Regions from separate parts of the Homo sapiens genome. Here all the other regions are linked to region 1. The links come from fine-mapping of genetic effects on gene expression. A gene starts in region 1. Each other region holds a variant in brackets. All regions are shown on one strand. Distances are from middle to middle.

Region 1 (8,182 bases):
AGACCCTGCAATTGCCGGATCAGCTGGCACCACCCAGATGGATAAACTGGCTAATCTGATCTTGTGGCTCCCACCCAGGAAGTGACTCAGCACAAGAAGACAGCTTCAACTCCCTATGATTTCATTTCCGTCCTGACCAATCAGCACTCCCGGGTCACTGGCTTCCCCCAACCCACCAATTTATCCTTAAAGATTCTGCTCCTGGCTGGGCGTGGTGACTCGCACCTGTAATCCCAGCACTTTTGGAGGTTGAGGTGGGTGGATCACCCGAGGTCAGGAGTTCGAGACCAGCCTGACCAACATAGTGAAACCCCGTCTCTATTAAAAATACAAAATTAGCCGGGCGTGGTGGCACATGCCTGTAATCTCAGCTACTTGGTAGGCTGAGGCAGGAGAATCACTTGAACCCAGGAGGCAGAGGTTGCAGTGAGCCAAGACAGCGCCACTGCACTCCAGCCTGGGTGACAGAGCAAGACTCTGAAAAAAAAACACAAACAAAAAAAAACTCTGCTCCCCAAATGCTTGGGGAGACTGATTTGAGTAATAATAAAACTGTCTCCCGCACAGCTGGCTCTGTGTGAATTACTCTTTCTCTATTGTAATTCCCCCGTCTTGATGAATCAGTTCTTTCTAGGCAGGGGGCAAGGTGAACCCCTTAGGCGGTTACAAATTCAAAGGCCACAGTTCCTTTCAGGTGGCTTCACCTGTGGTCACTCTGGCAAGGTTTTGGTTTTGCCCTCCAGGACCAGAAGAGGTAAGGTCTTCCTGCTATTGTAGCGCTATGGTATTGAACTACCTTTACCCTTGCTCTGCCCTAACTCTGTCCACACCTTTGGGAACAGCTCCTTTATTAACATCTCCTTGCTTCTCCTGTTTGAACTTGCCCAACTCTTAACCTGCTTGGATCCTGAGTCATCCATTGTATGACTCAGACTCCTGAGAATTTGAAAGTCACAGATCTCTAACCTAGAAACAAAGCAAGTGTTTCTAGCCAATGGGAAATTTCAACAATGTATAACAATCCATGAGCATGGGCACTGTTATTTCCAATTTGGAGTGTGATATTATAAAACAAGCTATGAAAAGAAACTAAATAAAAAGACGTGTTATTTTCTCAAAGGACACTTGGAGAGTTAAGAGCAATCCTATTTGAAAATAACCTACACATGGTAGGATAATAAAGTAGGGGCTCACTTGGCTTAGCTCCGTTCTGTTCTTGTGAAAGCACACATTCATATAAATAAGATATACTTGTTTTATATATATTTATTGTATTTTAAAACATGGGTCCACATACAGCTCATATATTACATTATGAATTAACAGCATGATTTAAGAAAAGTAATTTTGTTAATTATTTTTATAAAACAAACCCAGAGGCCGGGTACGGTGGCTCACGCCTGTAATCCCAGCACTTTGGGAGGTCGAGGTAGGTGGATCACAAGGTCAGGAGTTCGACACCAGCCTAGCCAATATGGTGAAACCTCGTCTCTACTAAAAATACAAAAAAAAAAAAATTAGCCTGGCATGGTGGCACATGCCTGTAATCCCAGCTACTTGGGAGGCTGAGGCGGGAGAATTGCTTGAATCCGAGAGGCAGAGGTTGCAGTGAGCCGAGATTGCGCCACTGCACTCCAGCCTGGAGTAAAGTAAAACAAACCCACAGCAACAATCTATGATAACGTTTACTTTGTATGGTAGCTATGGTAGGAAGTGGAGGAGATTCTGAGCTAGAGGAAACTATATTAAAGTGGGCACAGCAAACAGAGAGGAGAAAAGGAAAATATCTTGCCCTTAGCCTAACCCTGCCTACAAATCACTTACCATACACTAGAAAAGACTTTCATTCCCAATAACTTTGCATTCAAAGATAAACCATGAATAGCGGGAACCTCCTAAAAGCCTTGACTAACGGGAAATCCTAAAAGCTTTGCCTCCAGAGATAAGCCACAAAAACAAGAACATCCTGTTTTCCTTACCACAAAACAGGAACATCTTGTTCTTATCCAATTGGAATGAACTGCCATATCTGAGCTATAAATATCTGCCATTTCATCTGAGCTATAAATTCCTCTATTCTATTTAGCGAGCCACTCTCTGAAAGTCTGATTTTCTTGAACTGCAAGTAAAAATGTCTCTCTGTGCTCATATTTGTCTTTGATTTTTATTTTGACATAGGGTTCCTGAACTGATTTTTGGGGGGGGGAATCCTGAAGTTGGACGCACCCAGGGCTGGCTTCATGGGTGGGCAAAATGTGCAGTCACACGGGCCCCACTCTGGGTTTAGTGCTCTGCTATCACCATCTTAAAATTCGTAATTTCTTTGTTTTTTTTGAGGTAGAGTCTCACTCTTGTTGCCCAGGCTGGAGTACAGTGGTGTGATCTCGGCTCAGTGCAACCTCCGCCTCCTGGGTTCAAGCAATTCTCCTGCCTCAGCCTCCTGAGTAGCTGGGATTACAGGCACCTGCCACCACGCCCAGCTAATTTTTTTGTACTTTTAGTAGAGTTTCTCCATATTGCCCAGGCTGGTCTCGAACTCCTAACCTCAGCTGATCCGCCCACCTTGGCCTCCCAAAGTGCTGGGATTACAGGCGTGAGGCATGTGCATTTTAGCTTTCTAGATCAGGTGAGGGCACATGGACAAATGGCTCAAGGGTCAAATCCAGTCCACTGTCTGTTTTTGTATAGCTTGCAACTTAAGGATGGCTTTTACATTTTTCAGTGGCTGAAAAAGATCAAAAGATGAGTATTTCATGACAGTTGAAAATTACATAAAATTCAAACTTCAGTGTTTAGGATAAGGTTTTATTGGAACAGAGACCCACCCATTCATACTGTCTATGGCTAATTTTAAGATACAAGTTGAATAGCTGTGACCAAGCCAGCATGACCCACAAAACCTAAAATATTTCTTGTTTGGCTCTGGGAAGCTAAAAGACAACAAAGAAAGAATTCTCCAAAGATACTGAGTTTCTTTGGGAGTGAACAAAAAGAATTATAATCCAAGATGTACAGCTATGGCAAGCCACGGGTCTGGAGAAGGGAAGAATAGGGGGAAGATTTTACTGGTAAAGGAGGGAAGTTCACATAAACTCTTGGAAACTAAGTTGATTGGTTCCCAAGGCTCAAATCAAGAATTGGAGTCCGTTCATTGGTGGAGGTCCTGCTGCTGGGCCAAACGTCCTTTCGACAGTATCTTATCTGAACTGCTGCAGTTTTAAAGAATATTTAGCAATAAATCTTGTCATAGAAATGTGCGCATATTTGCAAAACAAGCAAGTTGTGCAAAACATTAAATGCATGAAAGATGTGAAGAAATTGTGGGTTTTTTGGTTTATTTTTTAAAGTCCTTGAGGCAGTTCGTTCTTTCTTTTTTTTTTTTTTTGAGACGGAGTCTTGCTCTGTCGCCCAGGCTGGAGTGCAGTGGCACGATCTCGGCTCACTATAACCTCCTCCGAGTTCAAGCGATTCTCCTGCCTCAGCCTCCTCAGTAGCTGGGATTACAGGCGCCCGCCACCACACCCAGTTTTTTTTTTTTTTTTTTGTATTTTTAGTAGAGACGGGAATTTCACCACGTTGGCCAGGCTGGTCTCAAACTCCTGACCTCGTGATCCGCCCGCCTCGGCCTCCCAAAGTACTAGGATTACAGGTGTGAGCCACCGCGTCTGGCCTTGAGACAGTTCTTATCTCAGACATACAAGCATGAGTTTCCTTCCTTTCTGGTCTCTAGGCTCCAATTTGTCTGGGTCTGACAATAGTTACTTCTCCTGGAATCTGCAACTTTCAGAGCACTTTATGGAAAAAGTCGGCCAACCCCTGCCCTACACTCACTCTTGATCACTCTCCAGTGTAGCCATCCCAAACTATTTGCAGACCACCCTTTTCTCTCTGATCTGTATCCCACCCCCATGGGTGCTTCCATAGAACTAACCCCATCTAAGCATTTAACAGTTATTCTAATTGCCCTTTTACTTGTCTGACCCAAGTGTTCGCCACTCAATCCTCAGCACCCAGCACGATCCCTAGCCCTCGTTCAGCGCTTAATAAATCCATGTTGATTCAATGTGTAGCATCCTGAACAGGCAACAGCAGTGGGTTCCAACTTTCAAGGAGCTTAAAAAAGGAACTCAGCATACAAACAACAGACTAATCTACAAGGAAGAATGAGGGGGGTGGAGGGAGCACTAAAAAGCAGCAAGTACTCTGCAGCAGAACCAAAGATAAAATTCCACCTAAAGGTGCCCTTTCTTCAGGATCCTTCCTAATTTGAATACAGGTTCCCTTCTCCTCCATGACGAAATTCTTAGTGAGGTTACTTGTTGGTACGCAGTGTCCTCATCTGTAAAATAAGGCTAAATAATTACGATTTCACCGGATTATAATGAATATGGTTAAGTATTGAACTAAGGCCTAGAAAGCACGTAGCTCAGTGCACGCTTCCTAGAAAGTGCTCAGTAAACTCGGATCCTCTAACACGCTCCGTTTGATGTTAATGGAGTCCGTATCCGAGCGGGTCTCCAGTGTGCATCGCCAAGGGTATGGCCCAGCATCCAACGCATCCTTTTAGTAAGAGTAGCGACTTCTCAGCGCTCCCTTCGCCCCAGGAGAGTTCTCGGCTCGCGGCGTCGCGGCGGGGCTGCGCGCTGGGCTGAACTCCCAAGAAACCTCCTGCAGCTGAACCGGAGCAGACGCCCGCCAGGTGAAAGAACTACAACTCCCGTCACGTTGCATCCGAGTTTAGGGCCTCTTTATAGTTTATCACACCCAGCCTCTTCCGCGCAGCCCTCAGTGGCTCCGCCCCAAAGGGGGCTCTCTTCTTTCCTTGTGGAGTCCGAAGCGTGGCCACGCCCCGGTCACCGGAAAAATCCGTGTGACGTCACAAAAACCTACGCGTCGCGCGGTGGGCGGGAGTTGGCGGACGGTCCCTGGCTGGGTTCTGGAGGCCCTGGGACCGCGGAAGAGGCTTCAGACGCTGCAGCGATGCCTCGCCCACGGCGGGTCAGTCAGCTCCTGGATCTGTGAGTCTACCCTGTCCCGCCTCCCTTCGCGCCGCCCCAGCACCTCCTCCAAACGGCCAGGCCCTGCGCTGCTCTTCCTCCCCGCCCCTTTCCCACCCCCCCCGCCGACCTCTGAAGAGGCCCCGCGTGTGTTTCTGTCCCTGGGTTCCTGATCTGTCGTTTCCTGGCTGAGGACAGTTGTGCAAAGTGGGTCTCTTGGCGGGCTTGCCCCTCCAACACTCCGCTGCGCGATGAGCGTCCATTCCTCCGTCAGCCTTGACAGCTCGGCGCCCCGGCTGTTACTGGCAGTGGCCTCTCTCTTAGCAGCTAAAAGCCTTGGTAGAAAAAAACACAACGCTAGATGAGGTTCTCAAAAGCTTCTAGCAGAATTCCACCCCTGTAACTGGAATAAACATTGACAGACCCTGGGATAAAGGTAACAAAGTGGTTAAGACCACGGATCCCTGGCTGAGATTGCTGGGTTCAGCCCCCGGCTCTGCCATTCACCAGCCACGTGACCATGGACCGGTAACGTAACCTCTCCCTGTGCCTAGGTTCTTTATCTATAAAATTTTTGTGATAATAGCACCCATCACATGGAGTTGTCCTGAGGGATAAATTTAAAACATGTAAAACCCTTATAAGGATGCCCAGCAAATAATAAACACCACTAAGTGTTATTGTTATTATTATTTCCTACCAGAAATTGTACGGAAATGGAAGTTACAAGGGCAATTGCGTCTCTCCAGGAGCTTTCAGTCCGTTAATATTGCCATGTAAAAAATAGACATCTTAAGGATAAGGAGAACAATCTCCTTAATCTACTGAAGGCTTTCTGAAACAATGGCATCTGATATTTTACATTAAACTTGGGAGGCCGAGGTGGGAGAACTGCTTGAGCTCAGGAGTTCGAGACCAGCCTGGGCAACGTGGCGAAACCCCGCCTCTACTAAAGATACAAAAATTATCTGGGCACGGTGGTTCACGCCTGTAATCCCAGCACTTTGGGAGGCCGAGGCACTTGAGATCAGGAGAGTTGGAGACCAGCCTAGCCAGCACGGCAAAACCGCGGCATGTACTAAAAATACAAAAATTAGCCAGGAGTAGTAGTGGCGCCGGTAGTCCCAGCTACTCTGGAGGCTGAGGCAGGAGAATCGCCTCAACCCAGGAGGCAGAGGTTGCAGTGAGCTGAGATCGCGCCACTGCACGCCTAGGCTGCTAGGCGACAGAGCGAGACTGTCTCAAAAAAATAAAATAAATAACTATAATATATGTAGAATAATATCACAAGCGGGAGAGTAACAAACTTTTGAAATTTCTAATAAGGAAAAGAATAGGAGAAAGCTTTGTCAAGGGGGTTATTTTTGAACATTGGTAGTATCTGACGGTTGCAAATGGGAGGAAATGTATCGTAGAGAGTGAAATAAAAAGAGTAAAGGTTTGACAGGCAGGAAAGGTAGAAATATGAGAGAAGACCAGAAAGTAGCGCTCCAATGTGAATGGAAGATACAATATGAATAGCACAGTAGTGAGACATAAAGCCAGGTCATTGGGAATAGAATCTTAGGGACCAGGATGAAGTAAGAGCATTTCCTCTTTCAGTCATGGGGAGCTATCAAAGGTTTTAGAACTGTACTGTGAGCAGAGAGAGATTTGAATTAGGCAGAAGTTGGAAATAGGGAGACACTTAGAAGACTGTTACAAAATCTTAAGAGGTGAAGAGCCCAAACCAGGAGACACATGAAGATGTTCTTTGCAGAATTATTTCTGGTGGCATGGAGCTGGAATGGGAGAGTTACCATGGAATATTATGCAGCTGTTAGAAAAGCAAAGGGTAGGCCAGGCATGGTGGCTCACACCTGTAATCCCAACATTTTGGGACCCTGAGGAGGGTGGATTGCTTGAGGCCAGGAGTTGGAGACCAGTCTAGGCAACATGGCAAAACCATGTCTCTACCAAAAATAAAAAGTTAGCCAATCTCATAACCTGGTCTCAAAATAAATAAATAAATAGATAAATAAATGAAAGAAAAGCAAAGAGTAGATTCATTTGGATAGAATTTTAAAACACAGTGCTTAGTGAAAAAAAGAGGAAACAGACTAACAATGTTAAGAAAAATTCTTCAGAACTTGGGGCTAAGACAGGGATGACTACATGATCTTCATTGTCATGCTAGAGTGTGGTCCCTAGGTAAAGGTCCATATTTGCCCTTAGAACCTAATTTTGTACCCTTCTGGGACAAGGTACAGTCTGAGACTGGCAGTTGGTCAGCAAGCTATTTCTGGTTTGTAACAAAGTAAGAAGCTTGAGCCAGACTAGTAATTAAGTGTGTCACTAAGCACATTATTTAGTCCAGCTGATGAGGCTTTCTCCATGAAGGAAACAGGGCTTGGTTTATGTTCTTGCATAAACTCCTTATCTCCTCACTGACCAGCACTTTAACACTGCTTTAGAGAATCCTTTGGATCTGGGACATGAATAGTTTTGAATAGAGGGACCGAGGAAAGAGAAGAATTAGAAATTACTCTTTTAGTTGGGGGCCGTGGCTCACGCCTGTAACCCCAGCACTTTGGAAGGCTGAGGCAGGTGGATCACCTGAGGTGGGGAGTTCGAGACTAGTCTGACCAACATGGAGAAACCCTGTCTCTACTAAAAATACAAAATTAGCCGGCCGTGGTGGTGCATGCCTGTAATCCCAGCTCCTTGGGAGGCTGAGGTGGGAGAATCGCTTGAACCTGGGAGGCAGAGGTTGCGGTGAGCCGAGCTTGCACCATTGCACTCCAGTTTGGGCAACAAGAGCGAAACTCCGTCCCCCCAAAAAAAAAAAAAAGAAATTACTCTTTTAGTTTTAGCTTCGTTGACAGGTAGAATGGTGATTAGACTATTATGGAGGAAGAAGTGTCTTACGGGGAAAATGAATCAGAATATCCAGTAGAAATATCAAGCAGGCAGTTAGAATATAATTTTGAATCTGAAAGAAAGATCAAGGATTAGGCTGGGTGCAGTGGCTCATGCCTGTAATCCCAACACTTTGGGAGGCCGAGGCAGGTGAATCACTTGAGGTCAGGAGTTCGAGACCAGCCTAGCCAACATGGTGAAACCCTGTCTCTACCAAAAATACAAAAAAAATTAACTGGGCATGGTGGTGCACATGTGTATTCCCAGCTACTTGGGAGGCTGAGACA
Region 2 (8,149 bases), 82 kb after region 1:
CCAGGAAAATTTAGGACACTGACACACACAAGGAGTGTAGGAGCAGAGGTTTAATAGGCAGAAGAGAAGGGAAAGAGAAACAGCTTTCTCTATAGAGAAATGGATCTGCGAGTGGAAAGGACCAGCCGGCAGTGGATGCGCCGAAGTTTATAGTCAGGTCTGAGGAGACGGTGTCTGATTTACATAGGGCTCATAGATTGGTTTGATCAGGTATGACGTTTACACTGTGCGCAGGGGAAGCCTGGTTACCCCACCCTAATCTTATTATGGAAATAGACTTTCTAGTTGATCAACACCATCTTGTCTGCTCCTTACAGTACACGTGGCTGACAAAGGGAAGGGAAGATGGAGCCTCCAATTTGAACATGTGTACTCCGAAGTTCCTCCCTGCGTTCACTCGTGCAAGCTCCCAGCTTGCTTGTCTGTGTCTGCAGCTCGGCTTTACAGAATGCTCTTTGTTAGAAAATGATTTGGGGCTGCTTTTCATGAAAAAGAAAAGCCTTACTGAGGATTCCCATACTCCTACTATCTGCCTAAGTGATTTCTTCTAAACTCCTGTATCAGTGAAGTGCAAAGCTAGTGAAAGGTAAGTGTTCGTTTAGTAAGTTTATCTGTATAGGTCCATTGTAGCATCAATTCCCAGTCTCTGGAGATAAGGGTTATTTTCTCTTTCTACTAAAGGAAGGCATCGGCCGGGCGCGGTGGCCCATGTCTGTAATCTCAGCACTTTGGGAGGCGGAGGCGGCTAGATCACACCTGAGGTCAGGAGTTCCAGACCAGCCTGGCCAACGTGGTAAAACCCCGTCTCTACTAAAAATACAAAAATTAGCCATGCGTGGTGGCACGCACCTGTAATCCCTGCTATTCGGGAGGCTGAGGCTAGAGAATTGCTTGAACCCGGGTTGCCTCACTGCAACCCGGGAGGTGGAGGTTGCAGTGAGCCGAGATTGCGCCACTGCACTCCAGCCTGGACGACAGAGCAAGACTCCGTCTCAAAAAAGAAAAAAAAAAAAAGGGAAGGCATCTTTCTCAAAGGAATTTTTATGGCTTCCTAAAGGTAGGAATGGACACGTCAGTGGGGAGGGCAAAGCAACTCCATCCTGGATGCTAATCCATGCTGGTTTCTGATTAACGCCAGTTCCAGGAAGTCTTGTAAGACTTCCAGTTTATCTATTGTTCCTTGTGTAAGAGCACGTACTGACTGTAAATCCTGCCCTTAGGTCAAGTGGCCTTGATGTTATCATACTTAAGTTGTTCTCCACGTCCCTTCTGAATCACTCCTCTCCTGGGGTATATAAGCCCTGGGTTTGAGGGGTAATGGTGCGGGGATCCACCATCTTGTCTCACTGCTTCCTGAGATACAGACATGGCTTCTGTTCTAAGTCCCTAGTAAACGTTTCTTCCTAAGAAACTGGATGTGTCAGCCTCTTTCTTCCACCTCTCAGCTTCCTTGGCCGCAGGTTTGCATAGACCCTGTCCACTGTGAAACAGTGAGCTAGCTCTTCCTGCAATGACAGTCTCTCAAGTACCTTCAGCTTGAAATAATCAGTATGCCAAACTGGCATATTTGGGGGTGGCACGTCCTTAACTCTTTCATTGCAAAGGTCTTTGAACTAACCTCCTTATCCCTCCTTGCTTCCTTTGGTCTCTTCTCAACAGAAAAGCCAGAGTGATTCTTTAAAAAAAAAAAAAAAGGTCAGGTCATTTCAATCTTCCACTCAAAACCCTCTTAGTGTTACTGGAAAGGGATCACGATTCAGATCCCAAGAGAGGGTTCTTGGATCTCACGCAAGAAAGAAATCAGGGCAAGTCCATAAAGTGAAAGCAAGTTTAAGAAAGTAAAGAAATAAAAGAATGGCTACTCCAAAGACAGAGCAGCCCCAAGGGTTGCTTGTTGCCCATTTTTTATGGTTATTTCTTGATGATATATGCTAAACAACGGGTGGATTATTTATGCCTCCCCTTTGAGACTATATAGGGTAACTTCCTGATGTTGCCACAGCATTTGTAAACTGTCATGGCACTGGTGGGAGTGTAGCAGTGAGGACGACTGGAGATCACTCTCGTTGCCATCTTGGTTTTGGTGGGTTTTGGTTGGCTTCCTTACTGCAACCTGTTTGATCAGCAAAGTCTTTACAGCGACCTCCTATCTCATTCTGTGACTAAGAATACCTTAACTTACTGGAAATGTAGCCCAGCAGGTTTCAGCCTCAGGTTAACCAGCCCCTATTCGAGATGGAGTTGCTCTGGTACAAAGGCCTCTGACAGCAGGGCTGAGTGCAGTGGCTCATGCCTGTAATCCCAGCACTTTGGGAGGCAGGTGGATCACTTGAGGCCAGGAGTTCGAGACCAACCTGGCCAATATGGCAAAACCCCACCTCTACTAAAAATACATAAATTAGCTGGGTGTGGTGGTACGTGCCTGTAATCCCAGCTACTCAGGGGGCTGAGGCAGGAGAATTGCTTGAACTTGGGAGGTGGAGGTTGCAGTAAGCTGAGATCATGCCATTGTACTTCGCTACGGAGAGAGATTCTGTCTCAAAAAAAAAAAAGAAAAGGAAAAGAACACACACATTTATCCATTAAGTTCACCATCTTTCATGGGTGCTCCAAAACAATTACAATAGAAACATCAAAGATCTATGATCACAGATCACCAGAACAGATAATCATATTAGGTTGGTGCAAAAGTAATTGTTGTTTTGGCCATTACTTTTAATATTAATGAAAAAAATTTAAATACTGTGAGGATTACCAAAATGTGACACAGAAACACGAAGTAAGCACACTCTGTTTGAAAAAAAAATGGCACCAATAGACTAGCCCGACACAGGGGTACCACAAACGTTCAATTTGTAAAATTCACAATATCTGTGAGGCACAATAAAGCCAAGCACAGTAAAAGGAGGGATGCCTGTGAGTGGAATCATATGCAGTCCTTTGTGACTGACTCTTTCATTGAGCATAATGTTTTCTTCATTCATGTTGTAGAATGAATAAGTACAGTCAGACCTCTGTATCTGTAGGTTTCACATCCGTAGATTCAACCAACCGCAGATTGAAAAAATTGGGGAAAAAAATTTGTATCTGTACTGAACAGCATGTATAGACTTTTTTTTCTTGTCATTATTTCCTAAAAATATAACAACTATCTCCAGCCTGGGCAACACGGTGAAACCCCGTCTCTACTAAAATACAAAACATTAGCCCGGCATGGTGGTGGGCGCCTGTAATCCCAGCTACTTGGGAGGCTGAGGCAGAGGTTGGCATGAGCCAATTGCACGCCACTGCACTCCAGCCTAGGTGACAAAGCGAGACTCCGTCTCCAAAAAAAATACAACTATTGGTCGGGCGTGGTGGCTCATGCCTGTAATCCCAGCACTTTGGGAGGCTGAGGCAGGCGGATCACAAGGTCAGGAGTTCAGGACCAGCCTGACCAACATGGTGAAACCCCGTCACAGGGCTGGGCGCGGTGGCTCACGCCTGTAATCCCAGCACTTTGGGAGGCCAAGGTGGGCAGATCACAAGGTCAGGAGATCGAGACCATCCTGGCTAACATGGTGAAACCCTGTCTCTACTAAAAATACAAAAACTTAGCCAGGCGTGGTGGTGGGCCCCTGTAGCCCCAGCTACCTGGGAGGCTGAGGCAGGAGAATGGCTAGAACCCGGGAGGCAGAGCTTGCAGTGAGCCGAGATTGCGCCACTGAACTCCAGCCTGGGAGACAGCGAGACTCCGTCTCAAAAAAAAAAAAAAAAAAAAAAAAGAAACCCATCTCTACTAAAAATATAAAAATTAGCTGGGCATGGTGGTCCATGCCTATAATCCCGGCTACTCAGGAGGCTGAGGCAGGAGAATCGCTTGAACCTGGGAGGCGGAGGTTGCAGTCAACTGAGATGGTGCCATTGCACTCCAGCCTGGGCAAAAGAGCGAGACTCCATCTCAAAAAAAAAAAAAAAAAAACTATTTACATCATATTCAACATTATAATCTACAGATGATTTAAAGTAATTATGCAAATACTACATCATTTTATATAAGGAACTCAAGCATCCATGGATTTTGATATCCTCAGGGGTCCTGAAACGAATCCCCTGTGGATACTGAAGGACAATTGTACTACATTCCTTTTGTGGCTAAATAATATTCCATTATGTGAATATTCAGTACTATATTGTGTTTCTCCATTCATCTGTGATAAACATTAAGGTGGTTTCCACTTTCTGGCTATTATGAATAATGCCACTATAAACATTAATGTACACATTTATGTGGAGACATATGCTTTCAATTCACTTGGGTATATACCTAGGAATGGAAGTGCTGGGTGATATAGTAACTCTATGCTCAAATTATTTAGGAATTGCCAGACTGTCTTCCAAAGTGACTGCACAATTTTACATTCTCACCAGCAATTTATGAAGGTTCCAATTTCTCCACATTCTTATCAACACTTGTTTTTT[T/G]TTTGTTTGTTTGTTTTCTTTGGTTTTGTTTTGAGATGGAGTCTCCCTCTGTCACCAAGGCTGGAGTGCAGTGGCGTGATCTTGGCTCACTGCAACCTTCGCCTCCCGGGTTCACGTGATTCTCCTGTCCCAGCTTCCCGAGTAGCTGGGATTACAGGCACCTGCCACCACACCTGGCTAATTTTTGTATTTTTAGTAGAGACGGGGTTTTGCCATGTTGGCCAGGCTGATCTCGAACTCCTGACCTCAGGTGATCCACCCGCCTCAGTCCCACAAAGTGCTGGGATTACACGCGCCCAGCCCCTAAATTACCTCTTTAAGCTTCAAAATAAGCATAGGATGTAGGTATACTATTATGACCTCTGTTTTAGAGGTAAAGAAGTGAAGTCACAGGAAGGTTCAGTAACTTGCCTGAGGGCTCATAAATAGCTGGCAGTAGAGTTGGGATGACACACATGTCGTCTGGTTCCAGAGCTGCACTTAAACACAGGACGTAGACTCGGTAATGAGAAAGAGGAAGCTATTTCAAGCACGAGCCAAAGGCAGGGATTTACAAGTTCATTGCAGAAAATAAACAGCCCAGTCTGACTACGAAGAGCACTCACCGGAGCCAGGTTGCGGGAGATGAAATGAGGATAGGGTGAGGCAGGCTGGTGGAGGGCCTGGACTGTGAGGCTTAGAGGCTTGGATTCCATTAAGAATATTAATTGGGAGTCATGGTTGGTTGGTGTGTGGTCAAGGGAACAATAAAACAAAAACAGCAGCTCAGTGGCTGTCGACATGTTAATGGCCTTTGAAAATAAAGTATACAAACAATGAGTGGCAGGAAGGCGAAAAGAAAGCTTTCTCATCACCAAGCTCAAACTACTCTGCATTATAATTACACAATATAAAAAGATGGAGGATCATGCCTGTAATCTCAGCACAAGATCCTTAGGGAGGCTAAGGTGTGAGGACTGTTTGAAGCCAGGAGTTTGAAACCAGCCTGGGCAACATAGCGAGGCTTTGTGACAAAAAATACGAAAATTCCAGCCTGGGCAACATAATGAAACCTGGTCTCTACAAAAATTGTAAGAACTAGCTGAGCATGGTGGTGCACACCTGTCATCCCAGCTACTCAGGAGGCTGAGGCAGGAGGATCACCTGAGCCCAGGAGGTTGATGCTGCAGTAGCCATGTTCAAGCCACTGCACTTTAGCTTGAAGGACAGAGCAAGATGCTGTCTCTAAGAAACAAAACGAAACAAAAAAAGGCTGGGCGAAGTGGCTCACGCCTGTAATCCCAGCACTTTGGGAGGACAGGGTGGGCAGACCACGTGACATCAGGAGGTCAAGACCAGCCTGGCCAACATGGTGAAACCCCATCTCTACTAAAAATACAAAAATGAGCTGGGCGTGGTGTCATGTGCCTGTAATCCCAGCTACTTTGGAGGCAGAGATTTGAAAATTATTTGAACCCGGGAGGTGGAGGCTGCAGTGAGCCAAGATCATGCCACTGCACTCCAGCCTGGGCGACATTGCAAGACCCTCTCTAAAACACAACAAAACAAAACAAAACAAAACAAAAGATGGAAAGATTGTAAGTTATCCTTACCAAACTTCTCTGTCCCCTTCAGACACATTTAGATGTTCACATCTATAATTAGCCATTGTCAATGGTAATGAGATTCTAACAACCGCGTATCGCCTGTGTGCAATGTGCTGTGTACAAAGTTTTTAATCTCCACAGCAACCAGTTCAGAAGAGGAAGCTGATGCTTGGGCGGGTAGGGGGAATGTTATGTCTCTTTCCTTTTCTCTGGAAAAAAACAACAACTTTCATGTCATCCAGGCTCTCTCTCATCAAACATGAATCTTCTCTACAGCATCTGAAGGCCTCTAGGATTCTTCCTATTAAGTCACATCTGCCTCTGAGCAGGGGGACAAGGCAGCGTTGCACAAAGCCTGTCTCCACCTCTCTTAGCCCACAGTGACCCCAGGAGCTAAAAGAACATCAGAGAAAAACATCACTAATATCTCAAAGATACTGAGTGCTGCTTAGAGTTGCAGTGGCAAAAATTTTTATCCATGTAAAAATGTAGTCCAGGAAAGATTAGTTTGTCTTCCCCTGCTGGACTCCAGCCTATTTCTACCTAATTATTTTTTCATGTGCCAAAAGTACAGGTAGGGAATTCAGGGGGAAGTAAAATAGTGTTTATTGAGTGCAACTCTATGGCAGGCTCTTTATTCACATGATCTCATTTAATTCCCTTAACAATCTTGTAAGGTAAAAATTGTTATTCCCGGTGTTAATGCAATATATGGACACTGAGGCCAAACAGCTTAAGTAACTGGCTGAATGCACAAAGGCCTGGAAGTGGCAGAACTTGGACTCCCATCCAAGTTCTAAAGACTTCCTTCTATGTCCCTTGCACTCTCTGATCGCCCACATTCTCTTTCCCAGCAGTCTCTAGTTACCAAAATTGCTCTCCTTAAAAAAAAAAAAAAAAAAAAAAAAGGCCAGCCACAGTGGCTCACGCCTGTAGTCCAGCACTTCGGGATCCTAAGGCAAGAGGATCACTTGAGCCCAGGAGTTTGAGACCAGCCTGGGCCACATAGGGTGACCCTATCTCTATTAAAAAGAAAGAAAATTAGCCAGGTGTGGTGGCACACACTTGTGGTCCCAGCTACTCAAGAGGCTGAGGTGAAAGAATCACCTGATTACCTGAGGATCACTTGTGGTTCCAGCTACTTGGGAGGTCGAGGCTGCGGTGAGCCAAGATCATGTCACTGCACTCCAGCCTGGGCAACAGAAAGAGATCCTGTCTCAAAAAAAAAATTGCTCTCCCTCGACAGCCTGCTTAGACGGCACCTGGCTTCAACAAATAATGCCTTGAACATTAGTAGCAGTGCTGGGGAGGAAATGAGCTGAACCCAATACACTGGAGATGGTGGCCAGGGGGCCTCTCACAATTCCTGCTCCCACCTCATCCTGTAGCAAAAGAAGCACTTTCTTCCACTTCCTTATTGGTTCTGTGAGGGTTAATTCTATGTGTCAGCTTGACTGGGTTGCAATGTGTTCAGACAGTTAGTCAAACATTCCTCTGGGTGTTCCTCTGAGGGTATTTCTGAAAGAGATGAACATTTGAGCCCGGGCGTGGTGTCTCACGCCTGTAATCCGAACACTTTGGGAGGCTGAAGGAGGTGGATCACCTGGGGTCAGGAGTTTGAGAACAGCCTGGCCAACATGATGAAACCCCATCTCTACTAAAAATACAAAAAATTAACCGGGCGTGGTCGACAGTGTCCCCTGGCACCGCTGTATGTGCAGCAACAGATAGGTAAAATCTAAGGTTTTAGGACAGATGTGTGAAGGCTGCTGGTGAATGGATGGGACCAGGACAAAGAGGGTACCTCAAGTACAAGGTGCTCTTTGATCAAGCCAAGGACCATTACGGGTTGCAGGGTTGTTTCCCTCCCGGTCAGCCCTGACAGCTAAAGGGACATCATTTATGCCAGTGCTCCAAGCCACCCTTCAGCTCTTTTGGTTAAACCAACATGTATGGCTCTGGGCTGGGCATGGTGGTGCACGCCTATAATCTCAGCAGTTTGGGAAGCCGAGGCGGGAGGATTGCTTGAGCCCAGGAGTTTGAGGCTAGCCTGGGCAACATAGCGAAACCCCAACTCTACAAAAAAATACAAAAATTAGCCG
Region 3 (8,182 bases), 61 kb after region 1:
AGACCATTACTCTGGTTGGTGGAATTATGATGAAATTACAGAGAAAACAACAAATGCCTGTTTTTTTTTTTTAAACAAGTAATACCATGATAGGTGCACTACACCTAATAATAGTGAGGGCTACCATTAATTAATTATTAGTGAGTTAGTTGTATATTGTGCTTTATAGATCACCTCCTTTAATCCTTTAAATAACTGTATAATAATTAACATCACCTCCAGTTAGACATGAGGAAACATTAAACATTTTTTATTGTCAATTAATATATTGTCATTGTTTTCTTTTATAGATCATTCCCGAGAAGTGTTGGAGCAATTAGTAGGCCCAAACAAACTAAAGCAAGTGACATGGACTGTTTATTGATGCTTTTTTGAAGATGATCAATGCTAGGAAAGCTTATCAAAACTACTTTCCCAGGAAACCATCTATAGAGATTTGCATTCTACTTAATGTTAACACTATTTTTAATTATTTTATTGTCTTAAGTTATAACTCTCAGAGAATTAGCTAAGTCTTGGTATATACATGGTTTGTGCTTTACTCTTAAACATCTTTAAAGTGCTATTATTCTATATCTGTTGGATGAGTCATTATTTTTGAAATGATAATCCTAGCATGAACTCTGATCTATGGTGTTGGATTCTGTTTCTTAAATAACTTTAAAATTAACTGTTTTCCCTTGAGATTTCCTTCTCCTATGTAGGTATTTGAGCTATTGTTCTAAGTTTACCTGTAAGTATAAACCTTGGGAGAATCTAAGTAAACATATTTCTAAAAGCATAGTTACCTTCCTATTTTCTGGCTCTTACCTTCTTGGAGTATTTAAATGCCCATTTGCCAAAAGCAGACCTGAACATCAAGCCTGTTAATTCTTCAAAGAATTTAGGTATTTGTTTCACCGAAATGAAGTGACTTATTAGCCATTCAGCGTATTAGTATTACAGAGGCTCTTGCCCAGCCACATCCATTCATTGATTTTTATGGCTACTCTTCCCAGTTACATTTTATGCATCTGTAAGCTTTCCTTCCTTAGCAAAATTGCATTCAAAAATGTGTAAAAATGAGTAAATACAGAATATCACTACAGAGACTTGTATCCTCAGGTTTATTGATTTCACATTGTGAAATAAACAGCAAAGGTCTTAGTTTTCAAGTGAAAACTTTTTGGTAATCACAAAATTACCTGACACATACCACGCTTAAACCAACCCCCAAATTTAGCATATTCATTTTGCCATGAGCCAGTCTTGAGATTTTCTTAAAAGATTTCTTATTTTGCCTCTGATGTAGTGAAAAACGGGGTAAGTATGCTAACTTTCTTGTATATGTTGGGGGGTACTTATTCAACTCCATTTCTTGTCCTTACAAGATTTATAAATGTGGTATGTTTATAGTGTGGATATATATGTTGCCACTGCAAAGGTGGTGCATATGTATATATGTGCAAAATGGGTAAGGCCTGTTCTAACTATGAAATTTTTCTAAAGACAAATTCAATAAAATTTAATACTGAATATTTAACCAAGTCAATCACATTTTCCCCTTTTTGCAGAAACTAGTTTCGACATCTAAATTGTGAGCTTCTTTGGGTCTATGAAGGATTTATCTTCCTAAAACAGTTTGCAGTTTGATATTTCTCCTTTTTTATGTTGCTAGCTGTATTAACTATTTCTCACCACTCTGTTTAAAATATCTGTACCCCATCCAGTACCCAGTATTCCCTATTACCCTTACTTCTTTTTCTCCTTACTACCTATCACCATCTGATGCCTGTTTTCATTTGTTCATTATGTCTCCCTACTCTAGAATACAAATTTCATAAGGACAAAGTATTTATCTTTTTTTTTCATTGCTGTATCCCCATATCCCCAGTGCCTAGAACAGTGCCTGGTATATAATAAGCACTCAAATATTCATTGAATAAGTAAATATGGAAAGAAATAAAGGAGGAAAGAAAGAAATACCCAGTAATACCCAGCCTGGCCAATGTAGCAAGACTCCATGTCTACAAAAAATACAAAATAAAAAAACTAGCCAGGCATCATGGTGGTGCATGCCTACAGTCCTAGCTACTAAGGAGGCTGAAGTGGGAGGATTACCTGAGCCTAGAAAGTCGAGGCTGCAGTGAGCACGGTCGCATTGCTGAACTCCAGCCTGGATGAGAGAGCAAGACCTGTCTAAAAACAAACAAAACAAAACACCCAACAACAACAACAAAAATTTCCAGTCTCTAGTCTGATTTATATTTTCTAATATAAAGAGATTGGAAGTCATCATTCCCATCCTCACAATAAGAAAAAAGCTCAATAAACTGAAAAGTCAACAACACTTAGATCCATTAGAGAATTAAGGTTAAAGAGAGAATGCCTCACAAATTAGAAACGCAAATACAAAGAACCATAGCTTACAGGGAGCAGAAGCCTGTTGCTGGAGCCAGTACCAATAGGAACATTTATGCTGTAATTCCTGAGTTGCTGGAGGCTCCATGTGGATGGACTTAAGAATCAAAAGCTCCAGCCTGGCACAGTGGCTCACACGTGTAATCCCAGCACTTGGGGAGGCTGAGGCAGGTGGATCACCTGAGGTCAGGAGTTCGAGACCAGCCTGGCCAACATGGCGAAGCCCTGTCTTTACTAAAAATACAAAAATTAGCTGGGCATGGTGGTGCATGCCTGTAATCCCAGCTGGGTTTGGTGGTGTATACCTGTAATCCCAGCTACTCAGGAGGCTGAGGCAGGAGAATCACTTTAACCCAGGAGGTGGAGGTTGCAGTGAGCCAAGATCACGCCATTGCACTCCAGCCTGGGCAATAAGAGTGAAACTCTGCCTCAAAAAAAAAAAAAAAAGAATCAAAAGCTCTAGGAATCTGTCCATAAACGTTATCTAACCAGGTGTGGCAACCCTGCAGTCACTCTGAACCTATTCTGCTTTTGGGAGCTGCCCAATTCACAGATTGTTCTTTGCTCAATTAAACTTTGTTAAATTAAAACAAACAAACTCCAGGGGGCCCACTCCTAGGGGAGACACCACACTTTCATAGTTTTACCTCCAGGATACCTACCAGGTTCTCAGGGTGAGGATCAGAGAAAAATCCCCTCTTCTGGTATGAGGATAGGGAAAGTAACCATTTTGAAATATGCCCAAGTGTTCAGTTCTCCTTAACAAAAGCCAGTTCTCAAGGGAAACTATTTTACCAGAGCCTCGTTGACCTGGGGGAAAGGAAGCACCCAACTCCAGCTGCCTCTAGCCTTCCTGTCTCACCAAAGTGACAAAAGAAAAGCTGAAAGCACTTGTGAAGGTCACAGCAGGGGCACAGGCTGACTTAACTGACTGAGACTTAATCACAGGACTATAGAACATACCTTCTCCCATACCTTATCACATCAGTTAGGCTACTGTATAATAACAGGGAATTACAGGTGAAAAAAACTGCAAGCTTCAGACTCTATATAAGAAGGAATCTCTAGGGAAACTCAAAGATAACAGAGGAGACAATAGCCAGGACACTAGAGGAAAATTTAGCCTGTAATATCTACTCTACAGCAAACAGTAGCCCTACCCAGATTTTAAAACCTCATGCTACCTTAGTTTACTTGTTTATTTATGCAATACATCATGTCTAGCTATCAACAAAAAATTACAAGGCATGCTAAAAGACAAAAAAACAGTCTGAAAAGAAAACAAGCATCAGAACCAGACTCAGTTATGGCAGACATTTTAGAATTACCAGATCATAAATTTAAAATAACTGATTAACATGCAAAGGGCTCTAATGCGAAAAGCATACAACACGCAAGAATGATGGGTGACGTAAGCAGAGATAGAAGCTATAAGAAAAAATCAAAAGGAAGTGATAGAAGTAAAAAACATCGTCAGGCTGGCGTGGTGGCTCACACCTGTAATCCTAGCACTTTGGGAGGCCAAGGCGGGTGGATCACCTGAGGTCAGGAGTTTGAGACCGGCCTGGCCAACATGGCAAAACCCCGTCTCTACTAAAAATACAAAAATTAGCCAGGCATGGTGGTGCACACCTAAAATCCCAGCTACTCTGGAGGCTGAGACAGGACAATCGCTTGATTGGGGGAGGTGGAGGCTACAGTGAGCCGAGACATGAGTCACTGCACTCCAGCCTGGAC[G/T]ACAGAGCTGAGACTCCATCTCAAAAAAAAAAAAAAGCCCAGAGTTCAAGGCTGCAGTGCCCAATGATTAAGCCTCTGAATAGCCACTGCATTCCAGCCTGGGAGCAAAGTGAGACTGTCTCTAAAAAAAGAAAAAATATATATATAGTCTTCTTCTGTTTTGTTTTGTTTGTTTAATTCAAAGTTACATCACAGTTGTCCTCGACTACAGAAACAGATCCAGCTACAATGTTTAATTCTTCTCCATTACTTAAATTAAATGCTGCCACCATTGAGTATGGCATTGTATAATCATATTCCTTCAGCGGTTAAAATAGAAAAAAAAATGCAGATAGAGATGTGTATAATTGGCATGCATAGAAATACAGAACCAGTTACATGACAAAAGTAAACAAAACTCTAAACCTTCATATTTTAAAAACAAGATTTTCCATTTAACAAGAATTACATTCATTAAACTGGAGAGTATCTCCTATAGAGAAAACTTTTAGAGTCAGATCCAAACATTACTATATTCATACTTGGAAGCACTTTGACAACTCAAGGCTGAAAACCCCACACTGTGCTTGTTGTCAGTCCACTGTTTTCCTGCCTAGTAGACTCCAAAAGTGAATATTCTACCACTTTGTGCAGGTGATGCTGAATGCTGTGTCCACTGAACTGGGGCCGCCCAGGGTCACCAATCAGTACTCGAGTTCTATAGGTCCAGAAGCACTTCTTCAGCCACTGATGAAGACTATCTGCAAGGTCTTCATCATAAAACATATCGCCAAGAACAACAAGGTCCCACTTATCTTGTTCCAAATTCAAAATGTTTTGGATTAAAATAGGAAAAGGATTCAGTCTGTTCAATTCACAATTTAGTGTAATAGCCATTCCTGCAACTTAAAAAAAAAAAAAGCACAAAATGAATTGGTATATGCTAGGCTGTTATAATTCCATGTTGATTAAATAATTTAGAAGATCTGCTAACAATATATTTTTCTTCCTTTTTGATGAAAGTTGTTTTTTAAAGTAGAGAAGTATAAAGGTTATCCCAATATAAGCTATACCACAATTTCCAAATACATGACTGGATATCCTGAAAACAAACAATTCAAAACACCTAGAAATGCTGGGACTTTTAGGAATATTTGCTGATTTCATTAACCAAAAGATTTTGTTTTTTTACTGTGGACAGGGAAACGAGACTTGGGCTTGATTGAGCATGGCAATAAATTAGAACTGAGACCCCTTGGCTGGGCGCAGTGGCTCACGCCTATAATCCCAGTACTTTGGGAGGCCGAGGCGGGTGGATCACCTGAGGTCAGGAGTTCAAGACCAGCCTGGCCAACATGGTCAAACCCTGTCTCTAATAAAAATACAAAAATTAGCTGGGCATGGTGGTGCATGCCTGTAATCCCAGCTACTCGGGAGGCTGAGGCAGGAGAATCACTTGAACCCACGAGGTGGAGGTTGCAGTGAGCCAAGACCGTGCCACTGCACTCCAGCCTGGGCAATAGAGTGAGACTCTGTATCAAAAAAAAAAAAAGAAAAAAAAAGAACTGAGACTCCTTTATAAAATAAAGGTTTTCAGCCAGGCGCGGTGGCTCATGCCTGTAATCCTAGCACTTTGGGAGGCCAAGACGGGCAGATCACGAGGTCAGGAGATTGAGACCATCCTGAATAACACGGTGAAACCCCATCTCTACTAAAAATGCAAAAAAAAAAAAATTAGCCAGGCATGGTGGCAGGCACCTATAGTCCCAGCTACTCAGGAGGCTGAGGCAGGAGAATGGTGTGAACCCGGGAGGCGGAGCTTGCAGTGAGCTGAGATTGTGCTACTGCACTCCAGCCTGGGTGACAGAGGGAGACTCTGTCTCAAAATAAATAAATAAATAAAATAAAATAAAGGTTTTCAAGGACTATATTCTCAGTGAAAGGGTAGACCAGAAGAAAATCAGATCAAATAAAAACTTACCTGTCTCAGCCTGGGTTCTAATGGAATAAAAATAACCCTCAAAGACAGGTCAATACTCACTTGGGTTTGGGGTCAAATAAACACTATTTACATATTTCAGGAAATTCCTAGCCCATAAATTAACATAAGTGCTTACTCTGGATGTCTGGCAGACACAAATCCTCTTGGGAAAAATGCACCATCTACTCAGACCTCAGGGGATTCCTACAGATAATGTCCCAGTGCACAGAGATTCACAATGTCCAATCACAAAATACATATAACGATAAGCTACCACACTGAGCATGTGTACATATTTATCCCAGAGAAAAAAAAAAGATGAGCCTTAAATATTTTAAAATATGAATCCTTACTAGGGTCTATGTCATTGGCCAAGATCCTTGATGCCCCACTCATCTTAGCAGCAATAGCTGTAGCTCCACATCCACTCCCAAGATCTAATACAGATTTTCCTCTGACAACATCAGGATTATCCAAAAGATACCTAAATTAAAAAGGAGAAACATGTCTCAGAGAGATGAGGAAAAATAAATGTTGGGAACAGGCCCCCCAAAATCTGGCCATAAACTGGCCCCAAAACTGGCTATAAACAAAATCTCTGCAGCACTGTGACATGTTCATGATGGCCATAACACCCACGCTGGAAGGCTGTGGGTTTACCGGAATGAGGGCAAGGAACACCTGGCCTGCCCAGGGCAGAGAACTGCTTAAAGGCGTTCTTAAACCACAAACAATAGCATGGGCGATCTGTGCCTTAAGGACATGCTCCTGCTGCAGATAACTAACCCAACCCATCCCTTTATTTCAGCCCATCCCTTCATTTCCCATAAGGGATACTTTTAGTTAATCTAATATCTATAGAAACAATGCTAATGACTGGCTTGCTGTTAATAAACATGTGGGTAAATCTCTGTTCGGGGCTCTCAGGTCTGAAGGCTGTGAGACGCCTGATTTCCCACTTCACACCTCTACATTTCTGTGTGTGTATCTTTAATTCCTCTAGTGTCACTGGGTTAGGGTCTCCCCAGCCGAGCTGGTCTCAGCAAATAAGAGGTATGCAAAAAAAGAAAAAAGAAAAGAAAAGGAAAAGAAAGAAAAGAGATGTCTTTAGGTTGACTGGACAAAAGAAATAGTGAAAAGTAGCAGAACTTGGTCCAACCTTGGCAAGTTTGGTCTGACTAGAGTGACACAAAAAGTCCATCTCCAGAGCTGGGCAGAGGTGGCAGAAGAAAGGACCTAGTCATTTGGTCTTTCTCTTCAGCAGGTGTGAAGCACAGTACCACACAACTGACTGATTATGCTATTCAAGTCAATTTTTTTCAAAAAAAAGTTGTAGGCTGGGCACAGTGGCTCCTGCCTGTAATCCCAGCACTTTGGGAGGCTGAGCAGGTGGATCACCTGAGGTCAGGAGTTCGAGACCAGTCTGGCCAACATGGTGAAATCCCATCTCTACTAAAAATACAAAAATTAGCCAGGTGTGGTGGCGGGCACCTGCAATCCCAGCTACTCGGGAGGCTGAGGCAGGAGAATTGCTTGAACCCAGGAGGCAGAGGCTGCAGTGAGTAGAGATCAAGCCATTGCACTCCAGCCTGGGTGACAGAGTAAGACTCTGTCTCAAAAAAAAAAAAAAAGAAAGAAAGAAAAGAAATGTATAAATGGCCAGGTGTGGTGGCTCACGCCTGTAATCCCAGCACTTTAGGAGGCAAGGTGGGTGGATCACCTGAGGTCAGGAGTTCGAGACCAGCCTGGCCAACAGGGTGAAACCCCGTCTCTACTAAAAATACAAAATTAGCCAGGCGTGGTGGTACATGCCTGTAATCCCAGCTACTCGGGAGGCTGAGGCAGAGAATCGTTTGAACCCGGGAGGGGAAGGCTGCAGTCTGCCAAGATTGTGCCATTGCACTCCAGCCTGGGCAACAAGAGCAAAACTCCATCTCAAAAAAAAAAAAAAAAAGAAAGAAAAAGAAATGTATAAATACTGTGCCTCCTAAAAACCTCTTAGAAGAGCACAGGCCACAAACTTTTCTGTGACTTGCATTTTTCTTGGGCTTAACAAACCTTGACTGGTTGAGACTCATGCCTCAG

Evidence for each region.
Region 2: its variant is fine-mapped to the expression of AMN1-AS1 in whole blood (TOPMed, PIP above 0.99).
Region 3: its variant is fine-mapped to the expression of AMN1-AS1 in whole blood (INTERVAL, PIP above 0.99).

The regions. Positions count from the first base shown.
Region 1 is chr12:31,725,807-31,733,988 of GRCh38, reverse strand. It overlaps AMN1-AS1 (AMN1 antisense RNA 1), which reads right to left and starts at 4,724. Exons shown (of 1, transcript NR_198987.1): 1 at 2,785-4,724. AMN1 (antagonist of mitotic exit network 1 homolog) reads left to right here and starts at 4,968. Exons shown (of 7, transcript NM_001113402.2): 1 at 4,968-5,018. The coding sequence starts at 4,981. It overlaps LOC105369722 (a long non-coding RNA gene), which reads right to left. Exons shown (of 3, transcript XR_931497.3): 3 at 5,099-5,332. RefSeq lists enhancers at 1-769, 4,460-4,659, 4,055-4,687, 4,700-5,049, a cis regulatory region at 803-1,030 and a silencer at 5,100-5,179.
Region 2 is chr12:31,644,173-31,652,321 of GRCh38, reverse strand. It overlaps LOC124902913 (a long non-coding RNA gene), which reads left to right and starts at 264. Exons shown (of 2, transcript XR_007063269.1): 1 at 264-586. It also overlaps a transcript of ETFBKMT not described here. The variant T/G (reference allele first, on the strand shown) is at 4,462.
Region 3 is chr12:31,664,486-31,672,667 of GRCh38, reverse strand. ETFBKMT (electron transfer flavoprotein subunit beta lysine methyltransferase) reads right to left here. Exons shown (of 4, transcript NM_001135863.2): 3 at 6,451-6,581; 4 at 1-5,021. The coding sequence ends at 4,678. It overlaps AMN1 (antagonist of mitotic exit network 1 homolog), which reads left to right. Exons shown (of 7, transcript NM_001113402.2): 7 at 291-1,526. The coding sequence ends at 364. Among named protein-coding and RNA genes, the nearest start is that of ETFBKMT, 8.9 kb to the right of the region's middle. The variant G/T (reference allele first, on the strand shown) is at 4,138.